2 linked regions of the Homo sapiens genome follow. The protein of the gene in region 2 interacts with the protein of the main gene of each other region in a pairwise test. Each region holds a gene or a part of one and is shown on either strand. Other genes may lie near its edges.

The links.
Region 1: the proteins of GDPD5 (region 2) and CLINT1 interact in binary tests that used the Homo sapiens proteins (3 or more experiments, as listed by UniProt).

The regions. Positions count from the first base shown.
Region 1 is NC_000005.10:157,800,096-157,807,385, reverse strand, and holds part of CLINT1 (clathrin interactor 1), read left to right. Parts: intron 1-1,273; coding exon 1,274-1,520; intron 1,521-3,666; coding exon 3,667-3,736; intron 3,737-7,290. UniProt on the Homo sapiens protein: Binds to membranes enriched in phosphatidylinositol 4,5-bisphosphate (PtdIns(4,5)P2). May have a role in transport via clathrin-coated vesicles from the trans-Golgi network to endosomes. Stimulates clathrin assembly.
Region 2 is NC_000011.10:75,434,140-75,439,231, forward strand, and holds the end of GDPD5 (glycerophosphodiester phosphodiesterase domain-containing protein 5), read right to left. Parts: intron 2,910-5,092; coding exon 2,797-2,909; intron 1,520-2,796; coding exon of another isoform or gene 1,517-1,519; coding exon 1,368-1,516; 3' UTR 501-1,367; downstream 1-500. UniProt on the Homo sapiens protein: Glycerophosphodiester phosphodiesterase that promotes neurite formation and drives spinal motor neuron differentiation.

The sequences.
Region 1 (7,290 bases), on a different chromosome or scaffold from region 2:
TTGGACACCAAAAAAGTAAGAAATTTCAGTTTTACTTGTAGGACTAATGGGAATCTTCAGGTCATTTGTTGTTGAGAAGTTAGTAAGGGCTTTTGAATGCGTATCAGAACTTGTAGGTTCCTTAAAATGTTTATATATAAAAATATATTTAACCCCTTTGCTCTGTGTGGGAAGTCATTCTTTTTGATCTTTGATTTATACAAGTTCCAGATTGGTTTATATTTAAGTACAAGTTGCTATAGTTCAGTCTGAGGTAAATTGCATCAGCAGTTTAAAGGAGAATTTTAAACATTATATTCCAGAATATTTATAAATTAAACCACCTACTCTAAAATTAAGTAATACAGGTAATGGAACATGTTTCAAGTAACATTTCTCTCTTTCTCTCTCTTTCGCTCTCTCTCTCTCTCTCTCTCTCTCTCCTACTTACATCAGAAAAAAACCCAATGACTTGTTACTAGAGAACAGACTAGGGCTGATATTTTCATTCCTAGCATATGAAAAACCCAGGCTTTTACTGTTTAGTTTTTAAAATCTTTTTCACTATTAAAGAAAAAGGAAAGAAAAAATTGTTGAATGTGGCTGAAGGAGAATTATCTTTAAAATATTTTAAATACAGTTGTTTTCTAGAAAGCATTTTCTATAGTTATATAAAAGTTTGATCTCCTGATACTATAGTAAAATAGCACAGTTGTAAAGTGCATTCCCTTATATTTTCATGCATTTACAGATGAGTTTAATTATTCGAATTAAGATGTGTGATTTTTTTAGCATCCATTGAACTTTTATTATTTTATTATGTACACACATTAGTCTTTGAGAGTTGATGCAGAATTGTGTTGTAAAAGTGGAACTATAGTAATTTGCACACAGTCCATGTCAAGAAAATAATCATCACATGCAAGTGTTTGAACTCTCAGGGTCTTATCATGGATTCTGATATCAAATCCTATTTTATTTTTAAGTTAAGCTTAAATCTGTAATAAAAACGAGTTATTTTGACATTTTTTATTTATACACATTTATGTAAATACTTTTTTGTAGCAGTATTTTAGACTTATATAGGATATTCTCTGTGTTTCCACTTCCCCTCCCCAGCGCACATATATCATTATTCAGACAGCTTAGATAACATTCTGTTGATCCCTGTCAAGTAGTCAAAGTATGAAATTTTGGAGTTACTGTATTTGAAATTCTTTAGCTCAAATCACTGAGGGACCCATTTTAAAATAATCCCGTCTTATTATTTTGCTTCATTTTTAATATCTTTTAGCGACAGCGATGAGGAAAAGAAAGCGAGAAGAGGCAGATCTCCCAAAGGTGAATTCAAAGATGAAGAGGAGACTGTGACGACAAAGCATATTCATATCACACAGGCCACAGAGACCACCACAACCAGACACAAGCGCACAGCAAATCCTTCCAAAACCATTGATCTTGGAGCAGCAGCACATTACACAGGGGACAAAGCAAGTCCAGATCAGAATGCTTCAACCCACACACCTCAGTCTTCAGTTAAGGTGGGAATGGCAGTAGTTTACACATTATACATGGTTTTATTTTTATAAACCGCTCTTCGAATTCCTGCATTAGTAGGCTTGGGCATTTCTAGGCAATCATATTAATTATGGATCATCTGGCATGTATTACCAAGAGACATTAATAATAAGAAATCTCTTTGAGGGGAGAAACCTGTCCAATTGCTGAATGATTGGGTACTTTCTATGAAAGTAGAAATGACACTTTTGGTTTGTTTGGGGAAGGTTGTGAATCAGAATGTAGTGCCTCTGTCCCCATCTAGACAATACTGGTTACCAACCACAAGTAGATTCACTAAAGAAAACATTGGAAGTATTTGAAAGTTTTAAGAAATGACAAACGAGGGAGTAAGAAGAGATATATAGGGGCAAGTTATCTCATGTAATGTAGAAACGTTGCCTATAAAGGGAGGCGTGTTTGCCTCACAGTCATTACTGATCAGTATCAAAAGAAGCACTGCCTCTTGTACCATCTTCGTTTGTTTTTATTTACCATAGAGATGAAATCCACCTGCTAGGTACCTGGCCAAACCCTAGTCTTTTCAACAGAAATCTGCCAAATAGGGAGATTTGCCTCAAAAGACTAAATTATTGTTTTTGTCACTTTCCCCGACTACTGTTTCCCCAGTTTGTGTCTTTGCAAGAGAAATAGCTAAAAGCTGGGAAAAACAGTTTTCTAATGTATGCAGCAGATTGTAGGTGACTCTGAAAATAAAACCAGGCCTGCTTAGTTGCAATAACAAATACCATGTCAGCTTTTGCCAAATATCTGTATAATTTTTTTAATAATAGAGACTTTTATCACATATCTTAAAGGATTTTAAATAACAGTTTGTAGTATAGCCTGAATATATGACACTCTGCAATAAATATTTTATATTTGTAGTACAAGCTTTTTCTTTTTCTTTTTCTTTTTTTGGAAGACCGAGTTTCGCTCTTGTTGCCCAGGCTAGAGTGCAATGGCGCGATCTTGGCTCACCGCAACCTCTGCTTCCCAGGTTCAAGTGATTCTCCTGCCTCAGCCTCCCGAGTAGCTGAGATTACAGGCATGCACCACCATGCCCGGCTAATTTTTTTGTATTTTTAGTAGAGACGGGCTTTCTCCATGTTGGTCAGGCTAGTCTCGAACTCCCGACCTCAAGTGATCCACCTGCTTCGGCCTCCCAAAGTGTTGGGATTACAGGCTTGAGCCACCGCGCCCGGCAGTACAAGCTTTTTCTTTTTTGTTTTCATTTACCCTCCTCCCCTCAAAAAAAATGTCTAGAAGGTTGAAGTTCTTAGAAAGTTACCCAACTCATTTGGATCTGTTCTTAAAGGTGTTTTGGAATCACAGTATATAGTATTTTAGTTTTCAAAGTTCAAATCAACATGCCTAGGATCTTAGGGTTTCCCCATTGCCTAATAATTGAGTTCTAATTTAGCATGTATATATCTAACATATAGGACATAGGTATTTAGGTATCAGGGTGCTTAGCTTTGTGGAGAAGATAAAAATAGTATTACAGGTATAGGCCTCAGTTTAGTTGGGGAACTAAATATGAAACATATCAATATATCAAATAACATAGAATTATACTAACTTGTGTGATATACAAACAATAAGTTTTGCTAAGGTTCATAGAAATTTAGAGCTGTTTAGGATCTTGACCTCTAATCCAGTGGATCTCAAGCCTTGGAATTATCTAGGGAGCTTTCTTGTAAGACTTTAACAGGCCAAGGTCTTGGCCTTTTTATACCTGGGCAATTATGACTCAGTGTATTGTATGGGACTGGTACATATGCTAGGGTATTTTTTTTTTTTTTTTTTTTTAATGAACTGATACTTAGCATTAAGATTCAAGTGGGATCTGGCAGTTAATATTTTCCAGAGTGAAATGCAGTCAGAAAAGTGAGGTAGGAAAAAAAGTGTCAATGTTAAGAGACTTTTACACTGCTGGGAATGGAGGTACTTAAAAGTGCTTGCTGCCTCTCCATAAGGATTCAAGGTCAGTACTCTTTTTCCAGAAAACCCTACCCTTATTAAGCTAATTACAGGTATTTATGTCTAAATTGAGAATTAGAGATGGATAGAGCTGATTTTTAGAAAAACAAACTTTTCGAAGCTCCTGAGTTATGTGTGTGTTTTCAGACTTCAGTGCCTAGCAGCAAGTCATCTGGTGACCTTGTTGATCTGTTTGATGGCACCAGCCAGTCAACAGGTAAGCTTCTACATTGGCCTTTTCTTTTGGTTTGAGAGTCATTTTTTAAAATGCCAAATAAAAGATAGATTGAAAAATAAGATTACTTATTTGCATTGGGTTCATTTTTTATATGAAATTAGTGAGTCTTGAGCATTATTTGGAATCATTGTGTTATTTTTGCTTATCTTTTTATATGTACACCCATTTCTCTATCCCTATTTTATACCTTTTTCTGACCCACCCTCAGACTAGCAAAACTTTGTTTGTGGTCAGTACTTATTGGTGGTTAATAATAGTATCCTCAAATCATTATCATACTTAGATTTTAATGACTCCTCATACCTGATGTACTGTGTCTTCCCTAATTAATAATAAATAGTATTTCAAGGCATCATGTACTTTCTGAAATTTTTCATCATAGATTTTGGAATCTATAGTTTCCATTTTTAATTTTTAAGATTAACTTGGAGAAACAAAAAATTGCATTTAAACTGTTGCCTTTACTTTCTTTATAAGCAAAAGGTACTGCTCTGCGCATTTTACTGTCTTTCCCTAAATTTTAATTGCAGCTGTCACCTTGGGCATGCCTAGAGATCATTTAACTTTTTATTCTTTTAATTGAACAAATATTTGTTGAACCAGACACTGATCTGGGTGCTTGTAAAAAACAGAGTTGTTGTCCTCATGCGAAGGTCAAGTGGAGAAAATAATCATTAATCAGAGTCACAAATAGTTATCTAGTGATAAACAATGGCAAGTGCTTCAGTCAGAGGAATGACATTCTCTGAAAGTATGTAACTACCAAACATATTTAAAGAGGGCGGCTGGGCGTGGTGGCTGACCCCTGTAATCCCAGCACTTTGGGAGGCCGAGGGAGGTGGATCACCTGAGATCAGGAGTTCGAGACCAGCCTGGCCAACATGGTGATACCCTGTCTCTACTGAAAATACAAAAATTAGCCGGGTATGGTGGCAGGTACCTGTAATCCCAGCTACTCGGGAGGCTGAGGCAGGAGAATCACTTGAACCCGGGAGGCGGAGGTTGCAGTGAACGGAGATTGCGCCATTGCACTCCAGCCTGGGCAACAACAGTGAAAAACTCCATCTCGGAAAAAAAAAAAAAAAAGAGAGGGCTACAGCAAAAGAACTGTTTACCTTGAATTTCTCATAGATGAGATTGATGATTTCTTCAGTTTGATTTCCAGTATGTGCTAGATTTTGAGTAATTTCTGATCAATTGTTTTCAAGAAAATTGATATTTTTAGGGTTGTATTTGATGATTATGGAGTTTTAATAAACTATTGTGTGACGTGTCAAAATAGTTTAACAAATACATCTTCTGTTTAAAGACAGTCTTTCCAAGCCTAAGTTCATTTCACATTAAAATGTAGACAGTAAGATGGGGGTATGACTAATGTGCAAAGTAAATTTATTATTCCCAGTTGTGTGTAATGATTTTTCAAAGCCGAATTGTGGCTGTGCACAGTGGCTCACACCTGTAATCCCAGCACTTTGGGAGGCCGAGGCAGGCGGATCACCTGAGGTCAGGAGTTCAAGACCAGCATGGCCAACATGGTGAAACCCTGTCTCTACTAAAACTACAAAAATTAGTTTGGCGTGGTGATGGGCACCTTTAATCCCCGCTACTCAGGAGACTAAGGCAGGAGAATCGCTTGAACCCAGGAGGTGGAGTTTGCAATGAGCTGAGATCATGCCACTACACTCCAGCTGGAGTGACAGAGCAAGACTCTTGTCTCAAAAAAAAAAAAACTTTAACTTAACCTTTAAGTGTAAGTCTATGCTGGAAATTACTTTTCACTGATAGTTTAGTATAATTAATGTAATATAAAGCCCCCTATTATTTCCTCCTCCTTACCTACTATGTTAAAATTCTTGGATTAGGCATGAACTTTATTCAAGCAATTCTCTTGCCTAAGCTTCTCGAGTAGCTGGGATTACAGTCACCTGCCACCATGCCTGGCTAATTTTTGTATATTTAGTAGAGACGGAGTTTCACTGTGTTGGCCAGGCTGGTCTCGAACTCCTGACCTCAGGTGATCTGCCTGCCTCAGCCTCCCGAAGTGCTGGGATTACAGGTGTGAGCCACTGCACCCAGCCCAGACATCTGGTTTGACCTACTTTCTTTCTCTATTTTTTTTTTTGAGACAGAGTTTCGCCCTTGTTGCCCAGGCTGGAGTGCAGTACACAGTCTTGACTCACTGCAACCTCTGCCTCCCGGGTTCAAGCGATTCTCCTGCCTCAGTCTCCTGAGTAGCTGGAATTTCAGGCATGCGCCACCACGCCCGGCTGATTTTTGTATTTTTAGTAGAGACAGGGTTTCTCCATGTTGGCCAGCTTGGTCTCAAACTCCTGACCTCAGGTGATCCACCTGTTTTGGCCTCCCAAAGTGCTGGGATTACAGGCGTGAGCCACCATGCCTGGCCAGCCTACTTTCTGAAATTCTTCAATTCCCTTTCCCGTTTTTCTGTAACTGCAAACTGTTCCTAAAATTATTCATTAAACTTGATTGGACTGTAATGCCCAAGGTTACGGACAGCTACATTAGTTGTGTAACAATTTATGTGATATATTTTTATATGTTTAAGATTTGAACTGTAGAATTAACTGGTAGTTAGCATGTAGTCATATAATACAGATATAGTGTCACAGAATATCAACTATTTTGGACTTCCTGGCATGAAATATTTAAAGGGCCCCTTTCATGCATCTGTGAAAAGTTTTAATGGAGCAATCAGAGAAGAATTAACTAGGAAGGTCAGATGGGTGGATGTAACTTTTCCTCTGTGACATCAAGATTGCTTTGAACAGAGAGATTTATTAAATACCAACATGCTTCCTTTACTTGGCAAGGAACCTTTGAGTGGTTTGTCTTCTCCAGTGCAAACAGTAGTTTGACTAATTAAATAGAAGTAGCAATTGATATTAATATAGTAACTGAGAAAGTTTGAATGAAATCTAGGAGGTTTCTTGCCTTAAATTTTATTTTATCTTAATAAAAAGCAACTAATAGAGATTGATATTAGAAGAATTTTTTAAAATTAAAGTTATCTCCTATTTGAAACCGTATGTTTAACCAGTTTGTGCAGCTCCCTCTTCAATCAGTACATAAATTTAGTTACTCCCAATCTCTATTTAAATATTTTAATAATATATTTTAAATTGAATTCAGCAGTGAAAGGAAATTGGGCATTAAATCTTTAGCACTTACACGAGAAGGTATAAGAATCTACCATATTAACATTGCTATTTGGTATGTCATTTGGGTGTCATTTACCAGATGTGCCCATATTTATAATAGTACCATCATGCAAGTAATGTGGGCACAAACTGTAAAGCTAAGCAGATATGGCATCTGTACCACTCACCAGCTAAATATATCCTCTGAGAAAATGTTCAGATTTTTGTGTGTGTGTGATTACATGTTCTTAGCATTCTCAAAAGTATATATGGTAAAATCATTGTAGAATATCTTACCAAGTTTAAAAATATATATGTAAAACCTAACTATCAGGATTTACTTGAGACTATCTCATATCTTAATAAAATGTCCCC
Region 2 (5,092 bases):
CAGGCAGGTCCAAAGCTCGGAGAAGTCAAAGCCAAACTCCTGGCATGGGGAAGAGGCCTCCCTGTGCTGAGGGCTTGTCCCAACATAGCCGGGAGGTTCAGAATGCCTTCATGTGGCTGTGAGGGCACCTGCCAGTCCCACTCCCAGCCCTACATTGGACCCAGGAGCCCTCCCCCTCTGCGTGTCATTCCTAGCTTATGGGAGGCACACATATGCGCTGGGGCCAGAGTCTGGATGGGATTCTGGCTTGGCCTGTTCTAAGCTGTGTGGCTTTTGGAGGTCACTTTACCTCTCCAAGACTGTCTCCCCATCCACCATATGAGGATACCGGCTCCCAGCCACTGGCACCATGGCGGACCCAGGGAAGGGGAGGCACCATTCTGCCACTTTCCCATTCATTCCTGAGAATGGTTCCTCCTCAGATTATAGGGTCAGAACTGAAACCTAGACCCAGCGCACTTGTCCCCACCCTCCTGCTGGCAATTCAGAGACAACACACATCAAGATGGCAGCTTTAATCACATTGGCCAAGGGCCCTAGGTTCCCTCTGTTCAGGCCCACTTAGCCACACACCCACCCTGGCCATATCCAGAACACTTCTACCAGGTGGGCCCTGCCCTGTGGCCACTGATGTGGGAACCTGAGGTCACATCAGTCTGTGGACTCCTGGGTTAGGTGACCCTTCTGCCTTGAGGTCTGCTGGACACCTGGGCATGGGATCCAGTAGTCCTGAGCTCACTCTTTTGGCCATCTCCAGCTGCTCCTAGAGGACGTGGCTCAGGCCCGCTCCTGGGGCAGGGGGTTGGCGGTGGCATGAGGTGGGTTGGGGAGGAGGACGTGTCTCCACATTGCAGCTGGCTTCCTCCTGGGCTGAACCTCCTTGTGCTTTGAGACTGACAGGAAGAGCAGAGTTGCTTCAGGTAGAGGCTCGGCCCAGGCCCTTGGGGCAGGATAACAGCAGAGAACTCAGGTGCCTCCTGGCACAGACAGGAGGACAGATGGCACAGGTGAGCATCCACACACTCCATTGCCACAGGGGGTATGGCATGGCCCATGACCCATCAAAGCTTCCAGGTCGGGATACAGGAGAGGGCCTCAGAAGAGGGGGACCAAGCCCTAGGCCCCATACTTCCCAGAAGGAGCCCCAGGCCTGCAGGGGCATCTGAAAGGATGGAGTCCTGGCCCAGCTGGGCCTCAGGAGACAGGGAGTCCCCCTCAAGAGAGGCTGCGGCTGACAAGGGGCTGGAGCCCACAAGGAGGCTGTGGAGCCCGCTCCCAGAGCACTCCGAGTTCAGACACACTTCCACCAGCTCTCCTAGGCTCCCCAGCTTCTGTGTCAGGTACAGGTGGGACAGACATGTCTTCAGCTAACGCCCACTCCGCTCTATGAGGGTCTTGGTGTGGCTGCCACCCCCTCGGGGGCCCACAGGGGTGGCGGTGCTGTTGGCATATGTGTCATAACTGTTGTCTGAACATACGGAGAGCACATCGGAGACCTCTACACCATCGCTGATCTCTGCTGGGCCAGAGGGAGACAGAATGTGAGTCGGGGAGGAGGCAGTCGTGAGGATGGGTGACAGATGGGGCAGGAAGGCTGCACCACCCAGCGGGGCACTTGGAGGCTGATGAAACCACTGGGCTCAGGTCGACATTGAGCCTGGCACTCAAGGCCCCTTTGGTGTCTGCTGAGCACTCTAGCTTCGCCTTCATCTGCTGTCCCCTGGGACTCTGCAGCCACAGAAAACCACCTGTGCCCCTGAGCTTGGCACCCATGTGTCCACTCTCCTCAGGGCCTTTGCATGTGTCAGCCCCTCTCTTAGGAGTGACTGCCCCAACAACACCTCCTTTTCCTACAGTCTGGCTCAAGTCTTCTCATCTGTCACTCAGCCTCCTGGGAACCTCATCGGAGCCCTGGGCCGAGTTAGGGCCTCCTCATGGCAACTCCAGACCCTGCTTCCTTCTGCCCTGGCCATATTCTGTATGGTTGCTGCCTGGGCCCCCAAAATACCTCAAGGACCAGGGTGGGTTCTGGGCATCTATGTCCCCAGGGCCTGGTAGAGTGCTGGACACAGAGCAGAGGCTCAAGAAAGCTCTGCTGAGTGGAGTTCGGCCATATAGAGGGACACTTCATTCTTGGTGCCCAGGCAAGCGGTGCTCCCTTGCCACCTCTGCACACATGCCGTGCCCACCTGGAATGCCCTTCCTTCCCTCAGCTCACTCGGCCCTCATCTTGAAGCCATTACCAAAGCACCTCCTCTGCATCCTCCCCATCTCAGTGTATCAGGCGCCCAAAGCCTTCCTCACTGCCCAGGCAGCTCTGACCACGTCCTCCCGCCCCCCGCCCGGCACTCCCATCGCAGGAACTCGACTTTCCCTGCCACTGTTTATATACGTAGCTGCTGCTTCCATCAGACTGGGAATGTTGACAGGGACTGGCAAAGAGCAAGGGTGAGGCCAACATTGTAGGATCCAAGTACGAACCAGGCAAAGGGGGATGGGCCTTCAAAACAGACTCCTCTCCCTACCCCACCCCTGCCCACCAACCATGGCACTGACACCAAGCCATGGTGGATGACAGGGTGGATGACTGTGTGTGTGGGGGTGTGTGTTTTCACACGTGTACTTATGCCTTTGTATGTCTGTGGGTATAATCCCGGTGGGTTTATGTACGTCTGTGCCCTTGTCCCTACCCATATGTGCCACATGTGAATGTGTGTGCATACACATCTGTTTGCATGTGGGGGTGCAGAAAGCTGGGCCCAGGGCCTGCCTCCACCTGTCTGCAGGGCTGTGTACCTGAGAAAATAAGCTTCTCCTTCATGATGCTGACGTCCCGGCTGGTCCGGCGCACCGCAGCACTCAGCATGATCTGCTCAGGGTTGTAGCTCCGTATGCCACCCAGGCGCCACCTGCAGAGATGGCCCCGTGGGCATCAGGTCTCTCCTCAGCCCTCCCTTGGAGCAGAGACCCTGCCTACTTCCAGAGCCTCTCTGGATGTGGCCCAAGAGACCAGCAGGACTCTTGTCCCACTGTACAATGGGGAAATAGGCCCAGAGAGGGCAGAGTTGGGGCTTGAATCAGAGCCTACTGACTCTCGGCCAGGGCTCCCTGGCCTCCCTCTTACCTCCAGAGCCGCCAGTCAGCAGCCCTGGCCCAGGACTAGGGTTGGTTAGTTCTGTCTCAGGTGTCCCCAGTAATGCACCTGGCTCTCTTTGAATGGGACAGATTTGGGAGCAGGAGGAGCTTAGTAGGCACGACTCTGTTGACCTAAGCTGGGGCACACACCAATCTCAGGGAGTCCCAGCTGATGTCTCTTATAGCTCCACCATCATGACCAGACTAAGTGAAGCCATTGGGGAGACCCCTTGAGAGGGAGGGAAGGAAAGCAGGGGGGTGGGGCCAGGTGGTAGGGGGCTTTGCCCAGAGCTGGTCTGCACAGGTTCCCAAGGCAAGGGGGTTAGAGTGACTTGGAGTGGGGCCAACTGCTGCTCTGTCCTGGCAGTCCTAATGCGGAGGGAGGTCAGAGCATGAATCCCTCTGATGGCTGAGACAGGTGCAAGGTGGGGGTAAAATTACTCAAGAGTGGGCTGGGAGGTGGAGCATGCACAGGGCATGAAGGGACCAGGCACTAAGTGGAAAGGACTCAGGTTTCTGTGCCCAGCCCAGGCCACTGTCTTCACTATTGTCATTCCTCTGAACTAGCCCCAGTCCCTGGCCTCTGAACTTAGACCTTTCCTGGGATCTAGGCAGAAGGATCACTGGACTCTCACCCCTGTCCCCACCAGGAGGAGGGGGTGATCAACTTGGGAACAAGAACCCAACTGCCTCAGGGACTGAACCCTGCTTGGGGGATGGAGAGAGCCAAGACTCCACAAGAAACCAACTGTGAGTTACTAGATGGGGTCAGCGCAGCAGAAGTGGACAGACAGATGGACAGGCGGATGGATGGATGAACAGAGCAGGCAGACAAGGGGAAAGCAGGAGGCGGGGGGTGGCACGGACACCCTGGCGAGGCTGGCTGCCCTATGAATCATTGAGGGCAGTGAGCAAATCTCTCTCTGTTCATCGCTGTGCCCCAGTACCATCAGTGCCTGCCGTGTCCCGGGAGCCTGACCTGTACTTGTTGAGTGAATGAATGGAAGAATAAGGCCCACAGGGAAAGAGTATCCTCCCCCGGCCTTGTCCCCCAGGGTACCTTCCTCCACCAGGCCTCTCCTGATCCCCAGGAGACAATGACACTGCCCTGGCTGTGTCTGAGCAGACCCAGCGTGTCTGTGCCAGCCACTGAATCACCATGGGGTGGCCTCCCCAGCACCCTGGGGCTCCATGTGAGAAGGCCCAACTCCTGCTGCAGACAGCATCAGCAACCAGTGTATGTGGATGTTGGTCAACTGGGCGGACACAGGAATGACTCAAGGAATGTCCCATAGCCAGGGACAGCATCTCCTCCTAGAAGCTGATTGGTGAAGCTGCCTGACCCAGGAGGGGCTAAGGCACTAGACGGAGGGAGACGTGGGTCCCTAAGCTCTAGGTCCCATCCTGGAAATTCATGTTGAAACCCAGAAGGACAGTGTCAGGCCAGGGTCTCTCGGCCAGGCATATCCAGAACAGGAAGCTCAGCCACTGTGGGGTCCTCTGAGGGGAATGAGGAAAAGGCTGTGTGTTGCGGGGAGCAAAGCAGGGATGGGTGTTAGAGATAGAATGTAAAGAAGAGAGAGAAAGAGATGGGAGAGGCAGAGAAAGGTAAACAGGAAGAGTGAACAGTGGGAGAGGCAGAGCCAGGGAGGGAGAAGATGGGAAGAGAGAGGCAGAAACTTGGTAGGGTCTGCCCTGGGCAAGTGGTGAAGGCCCCTGTAAGTGCCAGAGGCAGGGGGATGGGGGTACCCAGGCAGGGTCCCCTCCCCCAGGGAGACACTTTGGTGCAGAGAGGGGCCAGGTCAGGAAGCTGTCAAGGAAACGCTGGTCCCCACCTGCAGAAACGGCCGTGGGAACAGGGAGCAGAGGGACACACACGGCAGTGGGACGGGAGGAGCAGAAAAGAGGATTGCGGGGGTAAGGGAGGCTTCAGGCGAGCGCGCTGTCTGCGAGGTGG